2 separate regions of the Homo sapiens genome follow, and region 2 is linked to region 1. Evidence: fine-mapped QTL for protein levels in blood plasma. Region 1 holds a variant in brackets. A gene starts in the other region. All regions are shown on their forward strands.

Evidence for each region. A credible set is the group of variants that fine-mapping cannot tell apart. PIP is the posterior inclusion probability: the model's chance that the variant is causal. Protein levels are from antibody-based Olink assays in UK Biobank. Linkage for the fine-mapping came from a reference panel and not from the study's own genotypes, which makes the PIPs less certain.
Region 2: it holds the start of TREH, and the variant in region 1 is the best candidate, but not a certain one, in a credible set for the plasma level of the TREH protein (UK Biobank, PIP 0.79).

The regions. Positions count from the first base shown.
Region 1 is chr15:43,525,576-43,530,939 of GRCh38, forward strand. It overlaps MAP1A (microtubule associated protein 1A), which reads left to right. Exons shown (of 6, transcript NM_002373.6): 4 at 1-3,933; 5 at 4,075-4,295; 6 at 4,494-5,364. The coding sequence ends at 4,649. Among named protein-coding and RNA genes, the nearest start is that of MAP1A, 11 kb to the left of the region's middle. RefSeq lists enhancers at 2,139-2,771, 3,753-4,253, 4,254-4,754. The variant C/T (reference allele first, on the strand shown) is at 2,944.
Region 2 is chr11:118,676,811-118,682,174 of GRCh38, forward strand. TREH (trehalase) reads right to left here and starts at 2,840. Exons shown (of 15, transcript NM_007180.3): 1 at 2,729-2,840. The coding sequence starts at 2,817. RefSeq lists enhancers at 2,070-2,731, 2,732-3,391.

The DNA.
Region 1 (5,364 bases):
AGCAGAAAGACAAAACTCTGGAGCACAAGGAGGTGGTAGAGCCGAAGGATACAGCCATCTATCAGAAAGATGAGGCTCTGCATGTAAAGAATGAGGCTGTGAAACAGCAGGATAAGGCTTTAGAACAAAAGGGCAGAGACTTAGAGCAAAAAGACACAGCCCTAGAACAGAAGGACAAGGCCCTGGAACCAAAAGACAAAGACTTAGAAGAAAAAGACAAGGCCCTGGAACAGAAGGATAAGATTCCAGAAGAGAAAGACAAAGCCTTAGAACAAAAGGATACAGCCCTGGAACAGAAGGACAAGGCCCTGGAACCAAAAGATAAAGACTTGGAACAAAAGGACAGGGTCCTAGAACAGAAGGAGAAGATCCCAGAAGAGAAAGACAAAGCCTTAGATCAAAAAGTCAGAAGTGTTGAACATAAGGCTCCGGAGGACACGGTCGCTGAAATGAAGGACAGAGACCTAGAACAGACAGACAAAGCCCCTGAACAGAAACACCAGGCCCAGGAACAAAAGGATAAAGTCTCAGAAAAGAAGGATCAGGCCTTAGAACAAAAATACTGGGCTTTGGGACAGAAGGATGAAGCCCTGGAACAAAACATTCAGGCTCTGGAAGAGAACCACCAAACTCAGGAGCAGGAGAGCCTAGTGCAGGAGGATAAAACCAGGAAACCAAAGATGCTAGAGGAAAAATCCCCAGAAAAGGTCAAGGCCATGGAAGAGAAGTTAGAAGCTCTTCTGGAGAAGACCAAAGCTCTGGGCCTGGAAGAGAGCCTAGTGCAGGAGGGCAGGGCCAGAGAGCAGGAAGAAAAGTACTGGAGGGGGCAGGATGTGGTCCAGGAGTGGCAAGAAACATCTCCTACCAGAGAGGAGCCGGCTGGAGAACAGAAAGAGCTTGCCCCGGCATGGGAGGACACATCTCCTGAGCAGGACAATAGGTATTGGAGGGGCAGAGAGGATGTGGCCTTGGAACAGGACACATACTGGAGGGAGCTAAGCTGTGAGCGGAAGGTCTGGTTCCCTCACGAGCTGGATGGCCAGGGGGCCCGCCCACACTACACTGAGGAACGGGAAAGCACTTTCCTAGATGAGGGCCCAGATGATGAGCAAGAAGTACCCCTGCGGGAACACGCAACCCGGAGCCCCTGGGCCTCAGACTTCAAGGATTTCCAGGAATCCTCACCACAGAAGGGGCTAGAGGTGGAGCGCTGGCTTGCTGAATCACCAGTTGGGTTGCCACCAGAGGAAGAGGACAAACTGACCCGCTCTCCCTTTGAGATCATCTCCCCTCCAGCTTCCCCACCTGAGATGGTTGGACAAAGGGTTCCTTCAGCCCCAGGACAAGAGAGTCCTATCCCAGACCCTAAGCTCATGCCACACATGAAGAATGAACCCACTACTCCCTCATGGCTGGCTGACATCCCACCCTGGGTGCCCAAGGACAGACCCCTCCCCCCTGCACCCCTCTCCCCAGCTCCTGGTCCCCCCACACCTGCCCCGGAATCCCATACTCCTGCACCCTTCTCTTGGGGCACAGCCGAGTATGACAGTGTGGTGGCTGCAGTGCAGGAGGGGGCAGCTGAGTTGGAAGGTGGGCCATACTCCCCCCTGGGGAAGGACTACCGCAAGGCTGAAGGGGAAAGGGAAGAAGAAGGTAGGGCTGAGGCTCCTGACAAAAGCTCACACAGCTCAAAGGTACCAGAGGCCAGCAAAAGCCATGCCACCACGGAGCCTGAGCAGACTGAGCCGGAGCAGAGAGAGCCCACACCCTATCCTGATGAGAGAAGCTTTCAGTATGCAGACATCTATGAGCAGATGATGCTTACTGGGCTTGGCCCTGCATGCCCCACTAGAGAGCCTCCACTTGGAGCAGCTGGGGATTGGCCCCCATGCCTCTCAACCAAGGAGGCAGCTGCCGGCCGAAACACATCTGCAGAGAAGGAGCTTTCATCTCCTATCTCACCCAAGAGCCTCCAGTCTGACACTCCAACCTTCAGCTATGCAGCCCTGGCAGGACCCACTGTACCCCCAAGGCCAGAGCCAGGGCCAAGTATGGAGCCCAGCCTCACCCCACCTGCAGTTCCCCCCCGTGCTCCTATCCTGAGCAAAGGCCCAAGCCCCCCTCTTAATGGTAACATCCTGAGCTGCAGCCCAGATAGGAGGTCCCCATCCCCCAAGGAATCAGGCCGGAGTCACTGGGATGACAGCACTAGTGACTCAGAACTGGAGAAGGGGGCTCGGGAACAGCCAGAAAAAGAGGCCCAATCCCCAAGTCCTCCTCACCCCATTCCTATGGGGTCCCCCACATTATGGCCAGAAACTGAGGCACATGTTAGCCCTCCCTTGGACTCACACCTGGGGCCTGCCCGACCCAGTCTGGACTTCCCTGCTTCAGCCTTTGGCTTCTCCTCATTGCAGCCAGCTCCCCCACAGCTGCCCTCTCCAGCTGAACCCCGCTCGGCACCCTGTGGCTCCCTTGCCTTCTCTGGGGATCGAGCTCTGGCTCTGGCTCCAGGACCCCCCACCAGAACCCGGCATGATGAATACCTGGAAGTGACCAAGGCCCCCAGCCTGGATTCCTCACTGCCCCAGCTCCCATCACCCAGTTCTCCTGGGGCCCCTCTCCTCTCCAATCTGCCACGACCTGCCTCACCAGCCCTGTCTGAGGGCTCCTCCTCTGAGGCTACCACGCCTGTGATTTCAAGTGTGGCGGAGCGCTTCTCTCCAAGCCTTGAGGCTGCAGAACAGGAGTCTGGAGAGCTGGACCCAGGAATGGAACCAGCTGCCCACAGCCTCTGGGACCTCACTCCTCTGAGCCCAGCACCCCCAGCTTCACTGGACTTGGCCCTAGCTCCAGCTCCAAGCCTGCCTGGAGACATGGGTGATGGCATCCTGCCGTGCCACCTGGAGTGCTCAGAGGCAGCCACGGAGAAGCCAAGCC[C/T]CTTCCAGGTTCCCTCTGAGGATTGTGCAGCCAATGGCCCAACTGAAACCAGCCCTAACCCCCCAGGCCCTGCCCCAGCCAAGGCTGAAAATGAAGAGGCTGCGGCTTGCCCTGCCTGGGAACGTGGGGCCTGGCCTGAAGGAGCTGAGAGGAGCTCCCGGCCTGACACATTGCTCTCCCCTGAGCAGCCAGTGTGTCCTGCAGGGGGCTCCGGGGGCCCACCCAGCAGTGCCTCTCCTGAGGTCGAAGCTGGGCCCCAGGGATGTGCCACTGAGCCTCGGCCCCATCGTGGGGAGCTCTCCCCATCCTTCCTGAACCCACCTCTGCCCCCATCCATAGATGATAGGGACCTCTCAACTGAGGAAGTTCGGCTAGTAGGAAGAGGGGGGCGGCGCCGGGTAGGGGGGCCAGGGACCACTGGGGGCCCATGCCCTGTGACTGATGAGACACCCCCTACATCAGCCAGTGACTCAGGCTCCTCACAGTCAGATTCTGATGTCCCGCCAGAAACTGAGGAGTGTCCGTCCATCACAGCTGAGGCAGCCCTCGACTCAGATGAAGATGGAGACTTCCTACCTGTGGACAAAGCTGGGGGTGTCAGTGGTACTCACCACCCCAGGCCTGGCCATGACCCACCTCCTCTCCCACAGCCAGACCCCCGCCCATCCCCTCCCCGCCCTGATGTGTGCATGGCTGACCCCGAGGGGCTCAGCTCAGAGTCTGGGAGAGTAGAGAGGCTACGGGAGAAGGAAAAGGTTCAGGGGCGAGTAGGGCGCAGGGCCCCAGGCAAGGCCAAGCCAGCGTCCCCTGCACGGCGTCTGGATCTTCGGGGAAAACGCTCACCCACCCCTGGTAAAGGGCCTGCAGATCGAGCATCCCGGGCCCCACCTCGACCACGCAGCACCACAAGCCAGGTCACCCCAGCAGAGGAAAAGGATGGACACAGCCCCATGTCCAAAGGCCTAGTCAATGGACTCAAGGCAGGACCAAGTAAGTATATCATGAAACTTGGCAGAGAGTGTGGGTTAGGGCTGGGTGTGGGCTGGTCAGACTTCAGGAGTGGGACAGAGGGGAAGGTTGCCAAAAGGGTTCTACTTTTCCTCTACAATGAATCCTGGCTTGTCTCTACAGTGGCCTTGAGTTCCAAGGGCAGCTCTGGTGCCCCTGTATATGTGGATCTCGCCTACATCCCGAATCATTGCAGTGGCAAGACTGCTGACCTTGACTTCTTCCGTCGAGTGCGTGCATCCTACTATGTGGTCAGTGGGAATGACCCTGCCAATGGCGAGCCAAGCCGGGCTGTGCTGGATGCCCTGCTGGAGGGCAAGGCCCAGTGGGGGGAGAATCTTCAGGTGAGTAGCAAAGGACACCAAGGAAGTAGTCTGGTCAACGCTCACTCAGAGGCAGTAGTGGAACACAGTCCCTATTTATTAAAGGATGGGCCTTTTCTAAGGGCAGCAGAGCTGCTTCTGAGACCATGAGGTGCCCCTTCCCCCTCACCTACCTTCCCTTTATGTTCTCACATCAGACATATCTTATCTCCCTTCTAGGTGACTCTGATCCCTACTCATGACACGGAGGTGACTCGTGAGTGGTACCAACAAACTCATGAGCAGCAGCAACAACTGAATGTCCTGGTCCTGGCTAGCAGCAGCACCGTGGTGATGCAGGATGAGTCCTTCCCTGCCTGCAAGATTGAGTTCTGAAAGAGCCGCCCTCCCTTCCCCAAGGATCCACTCCCCCAGCTCCTTTAGAGAATGGCTACTGCTGAGTCCTTTGGGGTTGAGGGAGATGGGAGCTAGGGGGAGGGGAGGGAGATGTCTTGTTGTGGGGACTTGGGCTGGGCTAAATGGGAGGGGTTGTCCCTCCCCATCATCCATTCCTGTGAGGTGTCTCAAACCAAAGTTAACAGGGAGAGGATGGGGGAGGGGACAAATTAGAATAGGATAGCATCTGATGCCTGAGAACCCTCTCCTAGCACTGTCAAATGCTGGTATTGAATGGGGACTGAGGATGGGTCTCAGAGAGCAACCTCCTCCCTCGTAGAGGGAGATTATATCCCCAACTCCAGGGACCTCTTTATCTCAATCTATTTATTTGGCATCCTGGGAGGGATTTCCAATAGTAATTTATGTGACCTGGGGCAGGATACCGTCAGTGAGGTGCCCAGAGCTGCACCCTTTCCTCCATTTCCCATCCCCCATCTCCTCAACCACCAGGGTCTGAGTTCTAGCAGGGTCCTGGGGGTATCCCACTGCTATACTGTTCTACTGCTTCCCTCAGTATCTGAATGTCTCAATTTAAAACTTGAAGCTCTTTAGACCAATAGACTGGTGAGAGGAGAAAGGAGCTTATCCCCCAGACCCTGCTTTATACCATTCACATCCCAGGGCTGTGTCCAGACAGCACAAAACGGCAAGG
Region 2 (5,364 bases), not on the chromosome of region 1:
AATCAGGGACCACTATTAATAACAGACATTCCTATCACTTGGGAGATTCCAAGGAGCTTAGAGGTTACTTTGGAGGAACCCAAGACAAAAATGAAACTAATTCCTCATTATACAAGAAGTGGCTTATACATGAAAGGATTGACTCAGCAGGTCTGCTGTGTTCAAACCCTGCACATTTCAGAGAAAATTCTGGCCTGTGACCAGCCCTGAGAGATGAGATTTAAATTACCAAAATATGCTGCCTGATAAGTCTTTGTTTTTCTGGGGCCTTGGGCCATGCCAGATATTTGATGCTAATAATGTGATTTGTGGCAGGGGCCTTTGGCCGCCCAGTATCAGTTTGAACTCTGGAGAGTGAGTAACTGAGGTCAGCCACACAGGTAGTCCACGCTTTCATCACTGACCTCCAATAAAAACACTGGACACCAAGACTCAGGTGAGCTTTTGTGATTGGCAATACTTCATGCGTGCTGTCACATGTTATTGCTGGAAAAATCAAGTCCTGTCCATATAAATCCACTGGGAGAGGAAAAACTGGAAGATTGAGATTATTTTCTCCTGGACTTGGCCCTAGAATATTTCACCTTTGATGGCTTTAACATGTATCTTTTCACTGTAAGAAACCATAATCAAGGCTGGGCACGGTGGTTCATGCCTGTAATCCCAGCACTTTGGGAGGCTGAGGCAGGCGGATCACAAGGACAAGAGATTGAGACCATTCTTGCCAACATGGCAACACCTCTGTCTCTACTAAAAATACAAAAATTAGCTGGGCGTGGTGGCAGGTGCCTGTAGTCCCAGCTACTGGGGAGGCTGAGGCAGGAGAATCGCTTGAACCCAGAAGGTGGAGGTTGCAGCGAGCCGAGATTGCACCACTGCACTCCAACCTGGCGACAGAGCGAGACTCTGTCTCAAAAAAAGAAAAAAAATGAAACCATAATCATGGTATAACCATTTGGAAGTGTTAGTGAATCACTGGCCTGAGGTTGGTCTTAGGGAACACCAGTAAAGTCATCTTCCCCTACATTTGGCAAACAGCCTAATGCTTGACAAAGCACTGGACCACCCAGCCTCTCTGAAGTCCTCATTACAATTGCTCAGGACAAAACCTATTAATTATCCCAGGTACACTTTTCCCCTTTATATTCCACAATTGTCATGGGCAAGCACTGTCAACTCTCCCTGTAACACACACCCTCTATTGAACCCCTTGTCTCTGTCTCTAGTCTAACCACTGGAACCCAAGCCCAAACCTTGTTGCCTGGAGCCCCGCTCTCCCCGGACCTGTTCCCACTCTGCCCCAATCACACAGGCCTTCGTCCCAATCCCTGAACAGTGCGTCAGGGCCTCTGCATGGCCCTTTCCATGCCTGGACTGTCCTCTCCCAGATCAGCTCAGCAATGGTTCCTGCCACAATTCTGCTTACACATCACCTCCTCAGAGACACCGTCCCTCCCCATCCTCTCTAACACACCCTCTGCTCACCCACACCAGCGGGCCCTAACTTCTCTCTACTTCAAACTGTGCTTCTGTTACTGTTTTGCTTCTATTATTATTATTATTATTATTTGAGATAGAGTTTTGCTCTTGTTGCCCCGACTGGAGTGCAATGGCATGATCTTGGCTCACTGCAACCTCCACATCCCAAGTTCAAGCGACTCTCCTGCCTCAGCCTCCCGAGTAGCTGGGATTACAGGCGTGCGCCACCATGCCCGGCTAATTTTGTATTTTTCATAGAGATGGGGTTTCACCATGTTGGCCAGGCTGGTCTCGAACTCCTGACCTCAGATGATAGCTCCCACCTTGGCCTCCCAAAGTGCTGGGATTACAGGCATGAGCCACCGTGCCCAGCTGTTTTTCTTCTATTATTATTGTTCTTGCAGGAGCTGGTAAAGTGGCTGATGTGGCCACAGCTCCATAAATCCATGTGGAACGAAGGGTGGACATCGCCTGAGTCCAGGAGACAGGACAGGGTCACTCATCTCTGTCCCTGGTGATGGAAACTCAGGCTCAGGAAAGAGCCTTGACCTGCCCTGGGTCACAGAGAGAATATGAGGGTCAGGGCTCAAGCCCAAGTGCTGTCTTCAGGCCCTTAGGCTGCCTCTCACACCCAGACTAGGAAGCTGGAGCAGAAAGTTTGCTAGAACAATCCTGAGAAGAGGCCTGCACAGTTCAAGGGGCAGCTTGGAGGAGGAGAGGAAGGGAGGGCGGGCTCTGGCCAGCAGGCTCTTGGACCTCAGGCCAGGCTCTGGCAGCTGCGTCTGGTATCAGGACTGCAGGTCCCGACAGGGGGCGGTGGCTCACGCTTGTATTCCCAGCACAGTCGCCAAGCCTAATGTCCCTTCCAACGGTGGAAAATTTTGGTAAAAATCAATGACAGGCTGGGCGTGGTGGTGCATGCCTGTGATTCCAGCTACTCAGGAGGCTGAGGCACGAGAATCTCTCGAACCCGGGAGGTCTAGGCTGCAGTGAGTGGAGATGGTGCCACTGTACTCCATCTGGACGACCGAGCAAGACTCTAACAACAACAACAAAAAAAACGGACTGCAGGTGCAGTGCCCAGCACAGAGCCTGCTACATAGGAATTCTCATTTTCTTCTCTTCCCTACTCTTTCCTTCCTTTATAATCTCTTCCTTTCCCTCTGAAGTACCGACCCCAGAGCTTGAGATCTCATCCCAGCCTCCCTCTTATTGCCATCCTCCCCTGCTGCCTTCCCCACACCCCTACCTCTCACAGGGTGGGGGTAGGGCCTCCTGGGACCCCAGTCCCAGCCCCAGCAGCAGTAGCAGGCACAGCTCCCAGGTCCTCCCTGGCATGGTGGCTGTGACTGTGACTGAATGAGCAAGCCCAGGCACCTTCGGCTTGCTGGGCACAGCCTGGCTCACCTGCCTGTCCAAGTCGGCCAAAGTCCAGCCTTTGAGGCGTGGCCACCTGAGGGGACGTGTGCTTGGTCTGTGTGTGGCCCGCTTGCCCCTCCTGCTCTCAGGGCACAGTGGCCACCTCCCTTGCTTCTACTTTGCCTCTTCTATTTCACAGTCTCAGCTGGTGCCAATGGCTCAGGCCCTTCCCTCAGAGCATGGTGGTGGGGGTGGGGAGTGGGCACCCAAAGGCCAGGGACACAGTCGAGGCCACACACCTGTAACCTGGATGCCAGGTTCCTTGGGTGGCCCCAAGACCACCAACCTCAGAGAGTTACCATTTCCCTTAACATTTCAAATGGAATGGCTCAAGATCCTGTCCCTGGTGTGGTGTGAAATTCAGGGCCTCTCACTGTTATCTGCAAGAGATACAGCGGAAGCACAGGACAGTAGAACCATTCTGTCTGGGGAGGACTAAGGGAGACCCACAATAGTGTGTCATTTGTAATGAGTCTTTTTTTTTTTTTTTTTGAGACTGAGTCTCACTCTGTCGCTAGGCTGGAGTGCAGTGGCGTGATCTCAGCTCACTGCCACCTCCGCCTCCCGGGTTCAAGCAATTCTCCTGCCTCAGCATCCTGAATAGCTGGGACTACAGGTGCCCGCCACCACGCCCAGCTAATTTTTGTATTTTTAGTAGAGACGGGGTTTCACTGTGTTGGCCAGGATGGTCTCAATCTCTTGACCTCATGATCTGCTCGCCTTGGCCTCCCAAAGTGCTGGGATTACAGGCGTGAGCCACTGCGCCAGTCCTAATGAGTCTTGATGACCGCATAGGAGTTTGCCAAGGGAAATGGGCTGGAGACCACTACAATGTATGCAGAGCATGTGAAGAGAAGAGCAAACCCCTCAGCCTAGCTGCAGAGAACTTGGTGTTCATGCAGGGAAGGGTTTTGAGATAGACTGGAGGAACATGTTGGCACCAGTCTGGAAATGGTCTTTGCCAAGCCAAGGAATGTAATTCCTTGTAATTCCCCAAAGTGGAACCAGCAGAGAAGTTTGTGAGCTTAAGAAGCAGATTCAGGCTGGGTGCAGTGGCTCATGCCTGTAATCCCACCACTTTGGGAGGCCGAGGCGGGTGGATCACCTGAGGTCAGGAGTTCAAGACCAGCCTGGCCAACATGGTGAAACCCCGTCTCTACAAAAATACAAAAATTAGCTGGGCATGATGGCGGGTACCTGTAATCCCAGCTCCTCAGGAGGCTGAGGTGGGAGAATCGCTTGAACTCGGGAGACAGAGGTTGTAGTGAGCCGAGATCATGCCACTGCACTCCAGCCTGGGCGACAGAGTAAGTCTCTGTCTCAAAAAAAAAAAAAAAAAAAAAAAAGCAGATTCGGTTACTTTAGGAGGCTCATCCCCTCAACATATGGAAGGTGAGCTGAAGGGACAGGGGACAGGGGGTGGGCAAGGCACATGGAGTTTAATGATAGGCATGACCTCTCCTGAAGGACTTAGGTTTGCAGTTAAGGATGTCAGTTGTGGCACCTGAGCAGTGTTTACTGCTATTAAAAAGAAAAACCTTAGACAAATTAAATTTAACCATTTATTCAAGCAAAGAAATGACTCATGAATCAGGCACCACTCTGAACTAGTAAAGGTTCAGATAGCTCCACCCAGTAATGTGGGCAGCTGGCATTGTTTTTTTTGTTTGCTTTGTTTTTTGAGACAGGGTCTCGCTCTGTTGCCCAGGCTGGCATGCAGTGGCTCCATCACAGCTCACTGCAGCCTTGATCTCTCAGGTTTAAGGGATTCTCCCACCTCAGCCTCCTGAGCAGCTGGGACCACAGGCACATGCCACCACGCCCAACTAATTTTTAAATTAAAAATAATTTTTTTTTTTTTAGAGATTGGGTCTCCCTATGTTGTCCAGGCTGGTGTGGAACTCCTGAGCTCAAGCAATCCTCCTGCCTCATCCTCCCAATGTATTGGGATTACAGGTGTGAGCCACCATGCCTGGTCAACAATTTTTAAGTGTACAATTCAATTTCCTTTTATTACATTCACAATGCTGTGCAACCACCCTTGCATTCTTTGGATAAATCTCACTTGGTCATGATGTCTAATCCTTTTAATAAACTGTTGGTTTTGGCTTGCGAGTATTTTTTTGAGGAATTTTGCATCAATATGTATAGAGCATATTTGACTGTAATTTTCTTTCCTTGTTTTGTTTTGTTTTTTTTTTTTTTTGGACACATAGTCTTGCTCCATCACCCAGCAGGCTGGAATACAGTGGCATGAACACAGCTCACCACAACCTCGACTTCCTGGGGCTCAAGTGGTCATCTGGCCTCAACCTTCTGAGTAGCCAGGACTACAGGTGCATGCCACCACGCCTGGGTAATTTTTAAATTTTTTTGTAGAGACTACATCTGACTGTGTCGCCCAGGCTGGTCTTGAACTCCTGGCCTCAAGTGATCCTCCCGCCTTGGCCTCCCAAAGTGTTTCTC